Linked DNA regions of Homo sapiens. Changing the gene in region 2 together with the main gene of any one other region gives a genetic interaction. Each region holds a gene or a part of one and is shown on either strand. Other genes may lie near its edges.

Region 1 (3,649 bases), on a different chromosome or scaffold from region 2:
GTGGATTTTGTTATGCCCTTTATTTTTAATCAAAGGCTGCACATTTACAACTTTTCCGTAAAAATGTTTTTGATAATATGTATATGTTTATCATGCTTGTCATAATACCCCATGAAAGAATTCAGAGCTTTGCTTTTATAACTCTTTGTATTTAATTTTTGTTTAGTGTTTATGTTCTTTACTGGGCTGTGAGCCTCATTAAGGCAGGTACCATGTCTTTTGTTTACTGTGGCACCCTGTTGTTGGGTGCCTGACACACAAATAGGTTATTAAAAGGACCTGTTGAATAAGAGGCAGTGTATAAAATTCAGTACAGTGTTGGGTAATGTAGAGTTTCAAGTGCTTTGGAGGACACAAAAGGCATGTAGCTAAATCTCTGTTCTTAAAGAACTTAGAGTCAAGTTGGGGAGGTGAAAAAAATTAGAAGACATTGCAAGATAGAACATAACTGAAAGAATGGTTTTGGGGGATGTTGTGGTTCACAGTTATTGTGGGTCATAGCTATTTGATAGAGGAGGTGGAATTTGAGCCTTGCAAGTTAGGGAGAGGGGCTGGGTCTGGTGTCTCATGCCTGTAATCCTGGCACTTTGGGAAGCTGAGGTGGGCGGATTGCTTGAGCTCACGAGTTCAAGACCAGCCTGGGCGATATGGAGAAACTACGTCTCTACTAAAATACAAAAATTAGCTGGGCCTTTCTTCTTTTTTTTTTTGTTTTTTTGAGATGGAGTCTCACTCTGTTGCCCATGCTGGAGTGCAGTGGCGTGAACTCAGCTCAGTGCAAGCTCCGCCTCCCGGGTTCACGCCATTCTCCTGCCTCAGCCTCCTGAGTAGCTGGGACTACAGGCGTCCGCCACCACACCCGGCTAATTTTTTGTGTATTTTTTAGTAGAGACGGGGTTTCACCGTGTTAGCCAGGATGGTCTCCCATCTCCTGACCTCATGATCCGCCCGCCTCGGCCTCCCAAAGTGCTGGGATTATAGGCGTGAGCCACCGCACCCGGTCGCATTTCTTCTAAAAATACAAAAATACATGATGTGCCTGTGGCCCTAGCTACTCAGGAAGTTGAGGTGGGAGGTTGGCTTTAGCCTGGGAGGCAGAGGTGTCAGCCAAGATTGGGAGGCGAGGCCAGGTACAGTGGCTCATGCCAGTTATCCCAGCACTTTGGGAGGCTGAGGCGGGCAGATCACCTGAGGTCAGGAGTTCGAGACCAGCCTGGCCTACATGGTGAAACCCCATCTCTACTAAAAATACAAAAAAATTAGCCGGGCGTGGTGTCGGGCACCTGTAATCCCAGCTGCTCGGCAGGCTGAGGCAGGAGAATTGCTTGAACCCAGGAAGGGGAGGTTACAGTGAGCCGAGTTCGCACCATTACACTCCAGCCTGGGCAACAAGAGCGAGACTCTGTCTCAAAAAAAAAAAAAAAAAATTGGGAGGTGGAGGTTGCAGTGAGCCGAGATCGTGCCGCTGCACTCCAGGCTGGGCGATAGAGCCAGACTTTGTCTCAAAAAAAAAAGTTAGGGAGAACTGGGAGAGCAAAGAGGAGATGGAACACTGAGTGGGAGCACTAAGTGGACCTATGCTTTGGGACTCTTTGGAGAGACAAGCACACAAAGTCTTTTGGTCCTTGAGATTCCTGCTGCCTGGCATATATAGTGGGCATGAAGTAAATGTTTGTAGAAGGGATGGATGTGATGCAGAATTTTTGCTCCTTAGTTTAGCTAAATTTGGGTTCTTGTGTCATGACCAGGAGGAATTAGGCACATGGAAACATTGAAGGGTGAGGAGGGCTGAATTTATTGGGTGAAAAGGAAAAAAGAAAACAGACTCTCAGCAAAGCAAGAGGGGGTCCTGCTAACAGGCCCCCACCTCACAGATTGAATACTAGGCTACCACACAGGAGCTGAAGAGACTAGGCTCCTCCCCACTGCACAAGGTGCAGCTTCTCCTGGTTCCACCCTGTTCCCCCAGTGTGCCTGTGGCCATTACTCAAAAAGAATCAGTCCTGAAAGGGTGGGCAAATGTGCAGCTCTCCCTCAGGGTCGTGGGATCTGGGTCCAACAGTCTGGCCTTTCAGCCTTCAGGCTGTTTTAGGCTTGAAGGTGGGTTTTTGCTAGGACCCTTGGCTGTCTCTCTGTCAGATGGATGACTAAGTGAGGTAGGGAGAGTCCAAATTAACCGTACATGTAATGATGGCCCCCAGCACTTGTGCTTCTGCCTCTTTTTATTTTAATTTTTTCAAGACGGAGTCTTGCTCTGTCACCCAGGCTAGAGTGCAGCGTCACCATCTCGGCTCACTGCACCCTCCGAGGCCTCCCAGGTTCAAGCAATTCTCCTGCCTCAGCCTCCCAAGTAGCTGGGATTACAGGTGCCCACCACCATGCCTGGCTAATTTTTGTATTTTTAGTAGAGATGGGGTTTCATCATGTTGGCCAGGCTGGTCTCCAATTCCTGACCTTGTGATTCGCCCCCCTTGGCCTCCCAAAGTGCTGGGATTGTAGGCATGAGCCACCACGCCCGACCTCTGCCTCTTGATTTTATTACTGGGAAGAAATTGGGAATTCAAATAGAAGTGAAGCAGTAAAACTGGTCAGGTAAAGGATTCTTACTGCGTTACTCCATCAAGTAGCATGATTTCTGTGTATTTCTGCAGAGGGAGACCCCATCTTTTTTATTTTTTATTTTTTTTTTATTTTTTATTTTTTTTTATTTTTTATTTTTTTGAGACAGAGTCTCGCTCTGTCCCCCAGGCTGGAGTGCAGTGGTGAGATCTCGGCTCACTGCAACCTCCGTCTCCCGGGTTCACGCCATTCTCCTGCCTCAGCCTCCCGAGTAGCTGGGACTACAGGCGAGACCCCATCTTTAAAAAAAATAATAAGTCACTTAAACTTTCCATTTTTGTCTTGAATCTTCATTTTTTCTTTCTCTGTTGAACCCCACCCACCCTTTGTGTACGGAAACCTCGAACAAAACAAAATAGACACCTTATTCCCCATTCTTTTCTTTGCAAATTTAGCAGTTTCTTAGACTTTGTCTTCCTTTTTATCTGTCACCACCTCCACCCCTTAGGAAATGTAGGGTTTAAATTAAAGGGTGAACAAAAACATGTGTTCTACCTTGTCTTTATATATTATAATCTGGAATCTAATTTCCAGTAATCTGAAAAATAAACTCTAATGGATGGTTGCTTTTTAGTTTCGTGTGGCTGATCAAAGAAAGAAGGCATACGCAGATTTCTACAGAAACTACGATGTCATGAAAGATTTTGAGGAGATGAGGAAGGCTGGTATCTTTCAGAGTGTAAAGTAATCTTGGAATATAAAGGTAATATGGTTATTTGAAGTTACTTAAAAAAAAATTTCTAATTGTGGTAAAATGCAAATACAGGTGACTGTCCCTCACAATGTTTAGACTTAAGATTTTTTGACTTTACGATGGTGTGGAAGTGATACACATTTGGTAGAAACCATACTTTGAATTTTGATCTTTGTCCACATGAGCAATAAGTGGCACAATACTTTTGTGATGTGGGGGAGCACCAATGACCACATCCCCCAGTCAGAAACATAATCACAAGGGTAAACAGCTGATGCTGTACTCTGTAGTGTTGTGTGAGATACTCAGTGTTTTATTATAAGCTAGGCTTTGTGT
Region 2 (3,649 bases):
GCAGGAGAATGGCGTGAACCCGGGAGGCGGAGCTTGCAGTGAGCCAAGATTGCGCCACTGCACTCCAGCCTGGGAAACAGTGCAAGACTCCGTCTCAAAAAAAAAAAAAAAAGAAAGAAACATAGAGAACAACGAATCAGGAATCAAAAGAGGAATCAATCAAGAGGAATCAGAGGAATCAGAAGCCTTCCCAGCACCCTCTCCTTGGAGAGAGGCAGGAAAATCTCTAGGGTCACATCTCCCCTTGGCTTCCCAACCAACACTGTATCCACACTTACTTTGGCAGCTTGAGAGAACTTGTCCTGCTCAGGCCGAGAATGTAGTTCATAAGTGACAAGGCTGCTATCTGGGGGGGTCCCAGTGGTTTTTCCCCCTGATCCCCCTTTGCTGTTCTTTGTTGCTTCCAGCTGCAGTAGTAGGCGCCTAGTTAGGAGACCGAGTAATAATATCATGACTGGAAGGAGAAGGGCCAGTCACTCTCCCTCACTTTTGCCTCATAATCAGCATTAAGAAACATCTAAGCCACTTCTCTGCCACTTAGCACCCCTGTCAGTAGCTGGCTGAGTCCATCCACAACCCCAGTCAGCAATGATTTTTCAACAAAGTAGGGTACCCACTTAGCCAGGGCGCCATCGGGGTCGGTAAGGTTGATTGCAGCATCTGGTCCCAGCAGCTTCTCCAGGTGGGAAGCAACCAGCTGCTGCTTCAGGGCTGCCAGCTGTTTAGCCAGCAACACAGGGGTCAGCTTCTCCTCTGTGGCTGACTCCTTCACTGTCGTCTAGTATGAAAAAAGGTAGAAATCGGGGGATGGCAAGAATGAATCAAGAAGCAAAAAAATAGGTCAAGCCCTTTAAAGGTAGTTGTAGCTGGAGGTCACTGGGATGGTTTTCAGCATGACAGACTGCCCACCTGTATGTAGCACTGCATACAGATGGATGCATATTTGTAAACTCTGGAAACCTTAGCCCCTTTATCCAGGAGCTTAAGGAATCTTTCTTTCTTTCATTTTTTGAGATGGAGTCTCGCTCTGTCACCCAGGTTGGAGTGCAGTGGCATGATCTGGGCTCACTGCAACCTCCGCCTCCGAGTTCAAGCAATTCTCCTGCCTTAGCCTCCCGAGTAGCTGGGATTACAGGTATGCGCCACCACACCTGGCTAAGTTTTTGTATTTTTTTAGTACAGATGGGGTTTCATCATGTTGGCCTGGCTGGTCTTGAACTCCTGACCTCAGGTGATCCGCCTGCCTCGGCCTCCCAAAGTGGTAGGATTATAGGCGTGAGCCACCGCACCCAGCCAGGCAGGGAATCTTTCTCTTCTTGCTTGAGGTCTTCCTCTACTGTGTAAGTCACAGCAGAGAAGGGAGAAGAGAGTTTGTAGTTACCTTGATTTTTTCAACTTCAGTTGTCAGCTCTTGGACCTCATGCAGTAGGCGCTGGTACTTTTGCTGGGGTGTCTCCTTCACTCCCAGACCCTCTCCAAGCTAGAGAGCAGGCACAGAGGGTAATGTTATATGTCTCATTACAGGGAGCCTCAAGAATTCATCCACACCCTGGGCCTAAGTCATAAAGGTATCATATCCAATTGAGAATCCACAACACCCTAGTACCAAAGAACTGAGGACAGCTAGAGGGCTGGAGGCTCTCCAGAACAAACAGCAGTAGGGCAGAGTTTCCCTGGCTGCATCCTGCTGCTTCCTCAGGAACAGAGGAGGAACAGAATCCCGCCTGTATCCCTTGATCTCCCTACTACATGTCTGCTAGATAGGGTCACTACACCATTCCCATCAACACACACACACACACAACAAACCATCTCATATTCTCCAGATTCATATCCTGTCCTCTTGGTTTTTCCAATACGATCTGAGAAATCTGCCAAGAAAAGAAGATGGAACTGAGGGCCTGATCTAGGCCCAAGGCAGTCATGGTCTCAGGTGACTGTGAGGGCTTCCATAAAATATCTCCATGAGGGACCCCTTCCCCCAAGCACAACTCACTAAGACTTTAGGACAGGAAACCACTTCTCATGCTTATCCTCCAGTCTTCCCCCCACCCAGCTTCCAGCCCAGTCTCACCAAGTCCCTTTGTCCCCACTCTCTTGTCCTTGAACTTGTCATAGGCAGCATTAGGATTGACAATGATGTGTTCCACACTTGTGCTTGTCAGCTCCTCCTGCAAGAACAGGTAGTTTAGGCCAGGGACACACTCATTCCCACTCTAGAACTTACTCTACCCCACAAAATCCCCAAACCATTAGGTGACTGGGCCCTACTTGTCCAAGGGGAAAGAAGGGTGGCTCTATTCCAAGGCGCCTACCCAGGCTTAACCTAGGAAACTGAAGCTTCCTGGTAAATTTGGAGCCTCAGTTGTATAAATATTAACACCCTCATTCAACTGGGAGCAGAGGGAGCATAACCTCCCCACCCTCTCTGTACATAAGCCTTCCCATCCCCCCATGCTACCCCTCCCAGTTGTCTGGCACACGCCATGCACTCAAGGCAAGAAACCAACCTGACCTCTTTTAACCTCCCCCTCCCAAAAGTAAATCTTGCCCGCTGAGCAAGTCCATTTTAATGCTAACCTCCCATCCTTGCTAGAAGGAAAGAGGAGGGAAGGCAGATAATCAGGCCACTAACACTGAGTGTGAATATTAGGACTTTAAACCTGTTGAAGGTAAGACACAAGCTCTTAGTACAAAAAGAAGGCCGACAGAGGGCCTGACCAGAAGCCTGATTTCCAGGCTGCCATGAGGCCAGCGAACTCAGGGACAGGGAGAAGGGGCAAGGGCTTACTGGATTATCTTTATGGGACATCTTAGAAGCAACAAACATAGGCAATATCTGCTTGCCAAGAGTATCCATGGGCAAGAGCCACATGTAAGCTCTGAAATGGAGATAAACCAGCATCTCTTCAGAGACGCTGCAGCACCTGATTTTTCTCCCTGACTCCTCTGCTATGCTTTAAGCACTGAAGCTCTTCCAAAAACAGGGGACACAAGTAGGCGGTGAAAGAGACTTCACCCTAGAAACTGAAGCAGAGAGGTTCCCTCCTTACTAGATATCTACATGCTGTTCAGATTCCAGTGACAACACCAAGACTGCACCAAGCACTCCTGACTGCATGTCCCTTTTTCAATTGTCAGAAGCCTGACAGCTCCCAACAGAGTACTGATGGAAGTAGGAGGGAGACCCAGGAGTCCTTTTCTGTTGGGGATGACATCTCTACCTTCTATGGGAGGAAGGCAAAATGAGCCTTCCTTCTTTCACCTAGAACAATGGTTCTCACCCCAGGCTGCATGTTAGAATCACTTATAATTTTTTTTTTTTTTTAAATAGACAGCCGGGCAATGGTGGCTCAAGCCTGTCTGTAGTCCCAGCACTTTGGGAGGATCCTAATTCCAAGTGATCCACCCGCCTCGGCCTCCCAAAGTTCGGCCAAGGCGGGTGGATCTCAGGAGTTCAAGACCAGCCTGGGCAACATAGGGAAACCCCAACTCTACAAAAAATATAAAATAGCTGGGTATTGTGGCACGTGCCTGTGGTCCCAGCTACTCAGGAGGCTGAGGTGGAAGGGTCACTTGAGCCTGGCAGGTGGAGGATGCAGTGAGCAGAGATCATGCCACTGCACTCCAGCCTGGGCAACAGAGTGAG
Region 3 (3,649 bases), on a different chromosome or scaffold from region 2:
GAAATAACAAAAGCCCCCTAATTTGCTGGGAGTGGGCACTGTCCAACACGCAGAGAAACCAAAACTCTGCAAGTTACTTATACCCTTTAATACAAAGCTGGTAACTGGGGCTTTGCTCTACTGGAAATGCAAACTTTGCACTGCATGCAAATACTTATCTGCTCACTGCCACAGTGAGGACCATTCAAGGATACCTGTTATTTGTCAAAAAATACAGAATTTACCCACTGCCTGGGAAGCAAAGAGCAAAGAAGTCCTCTGCTTGCTGTGATACTGTGCCACCACTGTGCTGCAGATTCCAGTCAAATACTCCTACTCCATTCTGGGAATGTGAGGCACTTATTCTGGAACCACAGACAGAAAAGCCTGCAGGAATCCAGAAGGCAAAATAACCCAGGAAATCACAGCCACACATCTCTGCAGTTGGACCTTTTCAGAATCAGCAGCTAGTGTTTGTTTGTCATCACAGTAATACTGTAAAAGCAAAAGGAAAAGAGACCCAGGCCTTGCACTGACCTTGTCTTGTAAGGTGAGAACAGTCACTTTATGGACATTCAGCCGCACAGTCACCTCTGGCTTGCTGGCACATACATAACAATTGGGGTTGGGAGGATCCAGTGCACAAGGCACAAGAAGCTTCTTTCTTGGGTTTGGTTGTTTATTCAAAAAAATCTTTGGAGGAGAAATAACAGGCAGAAATCGGAAACGTGCTGTAATTTTATACGCCATACAATCTAAAATCTCGTTTACCAGATATCCAATAAAAAATGACTTAAAAATTCCCGTCCAGATGGCAAAATGGATCAGGAAAATCATGACCTTTTTAGGAACCTGGTTTTTCAACCTTCTTTTTTTTTTTTTTTTTTTTTTTTTTTTTTTTTTGAGACGGAGTCTTGCTGTCGCCCAGGCTGGAGTGCAGTGGCGCAATCTCGGCTCACTGCAGGCTCCGCCCCCTGGGGTTCACGCCATTCTCCTGCCTCAGCCTCCCGAGTAGCTGGGACTACAGGCGCCCGCCACCTCGCCCGGCTAATTTTTTGTATTTTTTTTTTAGTAGAGACGGGGTTTCACCGTGTTAGCCAGGATGGTCTCGATCTCCTGACCTCGTGATCCGCCCGCCTCGGCCTCCCAAAGTGCTGGGATTACAGGCGTGAGCCACCGCGCCCGGCCTCAACCTTCTTTTCTAATCAGCTAAAGGCTAGGCTAGCTAGGCTTGCTGAAAAGACATCTCCTTGTATTATATAAGACTCCGCGTTCTTCTGCAACCTGATTTGGCAAGAGTAAGGGCACAGGCATGTTAATCTGTGGTGCCATCATTGTATCAGCAGCTGGTGTCCCTCCCTGAGGCTATTCTTATCAAGCAAGCAATCTCCTGACAAGACCAACACATTAATTTCTCCAGTTAACGATAGTGCCTTTCACAGTTGTCTAGAATCAACATCACTGCCTTCCCAAATTTTCTGATTAGAATAACATTTATATAATGAGGGAAAAAAATGTATTTCTGGCAGTATATGTACCTATTTACCATTTCTCTAATACTAAACAAAAAAATAATTAAGAACCAAGGCAAATATACAAATTACACTGAAATTAAGAAAAGCTCCAAGCTCCTGCTTCTACTAAAGTTTAGAAAACACTAGCAAGATCCAACAGAAACAACAAATGTCAGAAGACAAGAAGCTGAGACACAAACCTTTATCTTGTGACTACAATGTAGTGTTGAGTCTGCTAAGAGGAATGAATTCTAAAGGAGTACTCTACGGATTCCCCTGAGAATACAGAACTAAATCCCTCAAGAGACACTAAAGCCGTCCTCTGTAAAATAGCTTCTCCGTACAATGAATACTGGTAGGTGGAAGGGCTAGAAGCAAACTGCCCAGGCCAAGCAGGCTACAGAGGGAGAAAGATTTGTTTGATTTTGGGCTTCACCGGGAAGGTAAGTGTGCTAAGGGAAACTGACAATAATAAAAGCAATTGCTACCACTATTAATACCTGGGCTAACATTAATCCAGGCTGGAATTCATTTGCAAATGTAAAAAAATGAAATCCAGATATATTACTATATTTTTTCTTGAGGCAGAGTTTCGCTCTTGTTGCCAGGCTGGAGTGCAATGGCGCGATCTCGGCTTAATGCAACTTCCGCCTCCCAGGTTCAAGTGATTCTCCTGCCTCAGCCTCCTGAGTAGCTGGGATTACAAACATGCACCACCATGCCCAGCTAATTTTATATATATATATATATATATATATATATATATATTTTTTTTTTTTTTAGTAGAGACCAGGTTTCTCCACGTTAGTCAGGCTAGTCTCGAACTTCCAATCTCAGGTGATCTGCCTGCCTCGGCCTCCCAAAGAGCTGGGATTACACGTGTGAGCCATCGTGCCCGGCCAGATATATTACTATTAATAGTCCAAGAGTGGCATGGAGCTAAGCAGGCAAAGAAACCGGAAGGATGTGATGGGAAATAACAGACATTTTAATAAGTTCAGTAATTAGTACTGTTGGTGAGCTCAAAGGGATACTACAGCTTCAGGCTGCTATAAAAAATTTTTTTTAAATAATTTAAAAACTGGGTATCGGCCAGGAACGGTGGCTCACTCCTGTAATTCTAGCACTTTGGGAGGCCAAGGTGGGCAGATCACCTGAGGTCAGGAGTTCATGACCAGCCTGGCTAACATGGTAAAACCCTGTCTCTCCTAAAACTACAAAAATTAGCCAGGCGTGGTGGCACCCGCCTGTAATCCCAGCTACTGGGGAGGCTGAGGCAGGAGAATCACTTCTACTTGGGAGGTGGAGGTTGCAGTGAGCTGAGATCGCGCCACTGCACTCTAGCCTGGGTGACAGAGCAAGACTCCATCTCAAAAAAAAGATACCAAAAAATAAAGTTCTTAGAAATTAAAAATATAACATATACAATAAAAGTTTAAATAGAAAACTAAATCAAGATGGCAGACTGGGCAATTTGATTCTGTTCCTTCAAACTGAAATTTCATGAAAATAAAATATTTTAAGAGTGCATCGAGGCTGGGCGCAATAGCTCACGCCTGAAATCCCAGTACTCTGGGAGGCTGAGAAGGGCGGATCACTTCAGGCCAGGAGTTTGAGACCAATCTGGGCAACAGGTGAAACACCGTCTCTACTAATAATACAAAAATTAGCCAGGTGTGGTGGCATGTGCCAGTAATCCCAGCTACTTGAGAGGCTGAGGCAGGAGAATCGCTAGAACCCAGCAGGTGGAGGTTGCAGTGAGCCGAGATCACATCACTGTACTCCACTGTACTCCAGCCTGGGTGAGAGCAAGATTCCACCTCAAAAAAAAAAAAAAAAAAGAAAAAGAAAAGGAAAAAAAGAGCGCATCGGGCCAAGTGCAGTGGCTCACACCTGTAATCCCAGCACTTTGGGGGGCCAAGGTGGGAGGACTGCTTGAGCCCAGGAGTTCAGGACCAACCCGGACAACATAGCAAGACCCCATCAGTTTAAAAAAAAAAGGCCGGGCGCAGTGGCTCATGCCTGTATGCCTGTAATCCCAGCACTTTGGGAGGCCGAGGTGGGCGGATCATGAGGTCAGGAGTTCGAGACCAGCCTAACCAACATAGTGAAACCCGTCTCTACTAAAAATACAAAAATTAGCCGGCATGGTGGCA

Evidence for each region.
Region 1: changes in DCTN2 (region 2) and COX6C together harm fitness more than expected from each alone (negative genetic interaction), as found in Homo sapiens cells (one large-scale study listed by BioGRID).
Region 3: changes in DCTN2 (region 2) and UBA2 together harm fitness less than expected from each alone (positive genetic interaction), as found in Homo sapiens cells (one large-scale study listed by BioGRID).

The regions. Positions count from the first base shown.
Region 1 is NC_000008.11:99,887,163-99,890,811, reverse strand, and holds part of COX6C (cytochrome c oxidase subunit 6C), read left to right. Parts: intron 1-3,193; coding exon 3,194-3,307; 3' UTR 3,308-3,322; intron 3,323-3,649. UniProt on the Homo sapiens protein: Component of the cytochrome c oxidase, the last enzyme in the mitochondrial electron transport chain which drives oxidative phosphorylation.
Region 2 is NC_000012.12:57,533,675-57,537,323, forward strand, and holds part of DCTN2 (dynactin subunit 2), read right to left. Parts: intron 2,172-3,649; coding exon 2,075-2,171; intron 1,872-2,074; coding exon 1,810-1,871; intron 1,481-1,809; coding exon 1,382-1,480; intron 779-1,381; coding exon 618-778; intron 424-617; coding exon 279-423; intron 1-278. UniProt on the Homo sapiens protein: Part of the dynactin complex that activates the molecular motor dynein for ultra-processive transport along microtubules. In the dynactin soulder domain, binds the ACTR1A filament and acts as a molecular ruler to determine the length.
Region 3 is NC_000019.10:34,455,792-34,459,440, reverse strand, and holds part of UBA2 (SUMO-activating enzyme subunit 2), read right to left. Parts: intron 673-3,649; coding exon 517-672; intron 1-516. UniProt on the Homo sapiens protein: The heterodimer acts as an E1 ligase for SUMO1, SUMO2, SUMO3, and probably SUMO4. It mediates ATP-dependent activation of SUMO proteins followed by formation of a thioester bond between a SUMO protein and a conserved active site cysteine residue on UBA2/SAE2.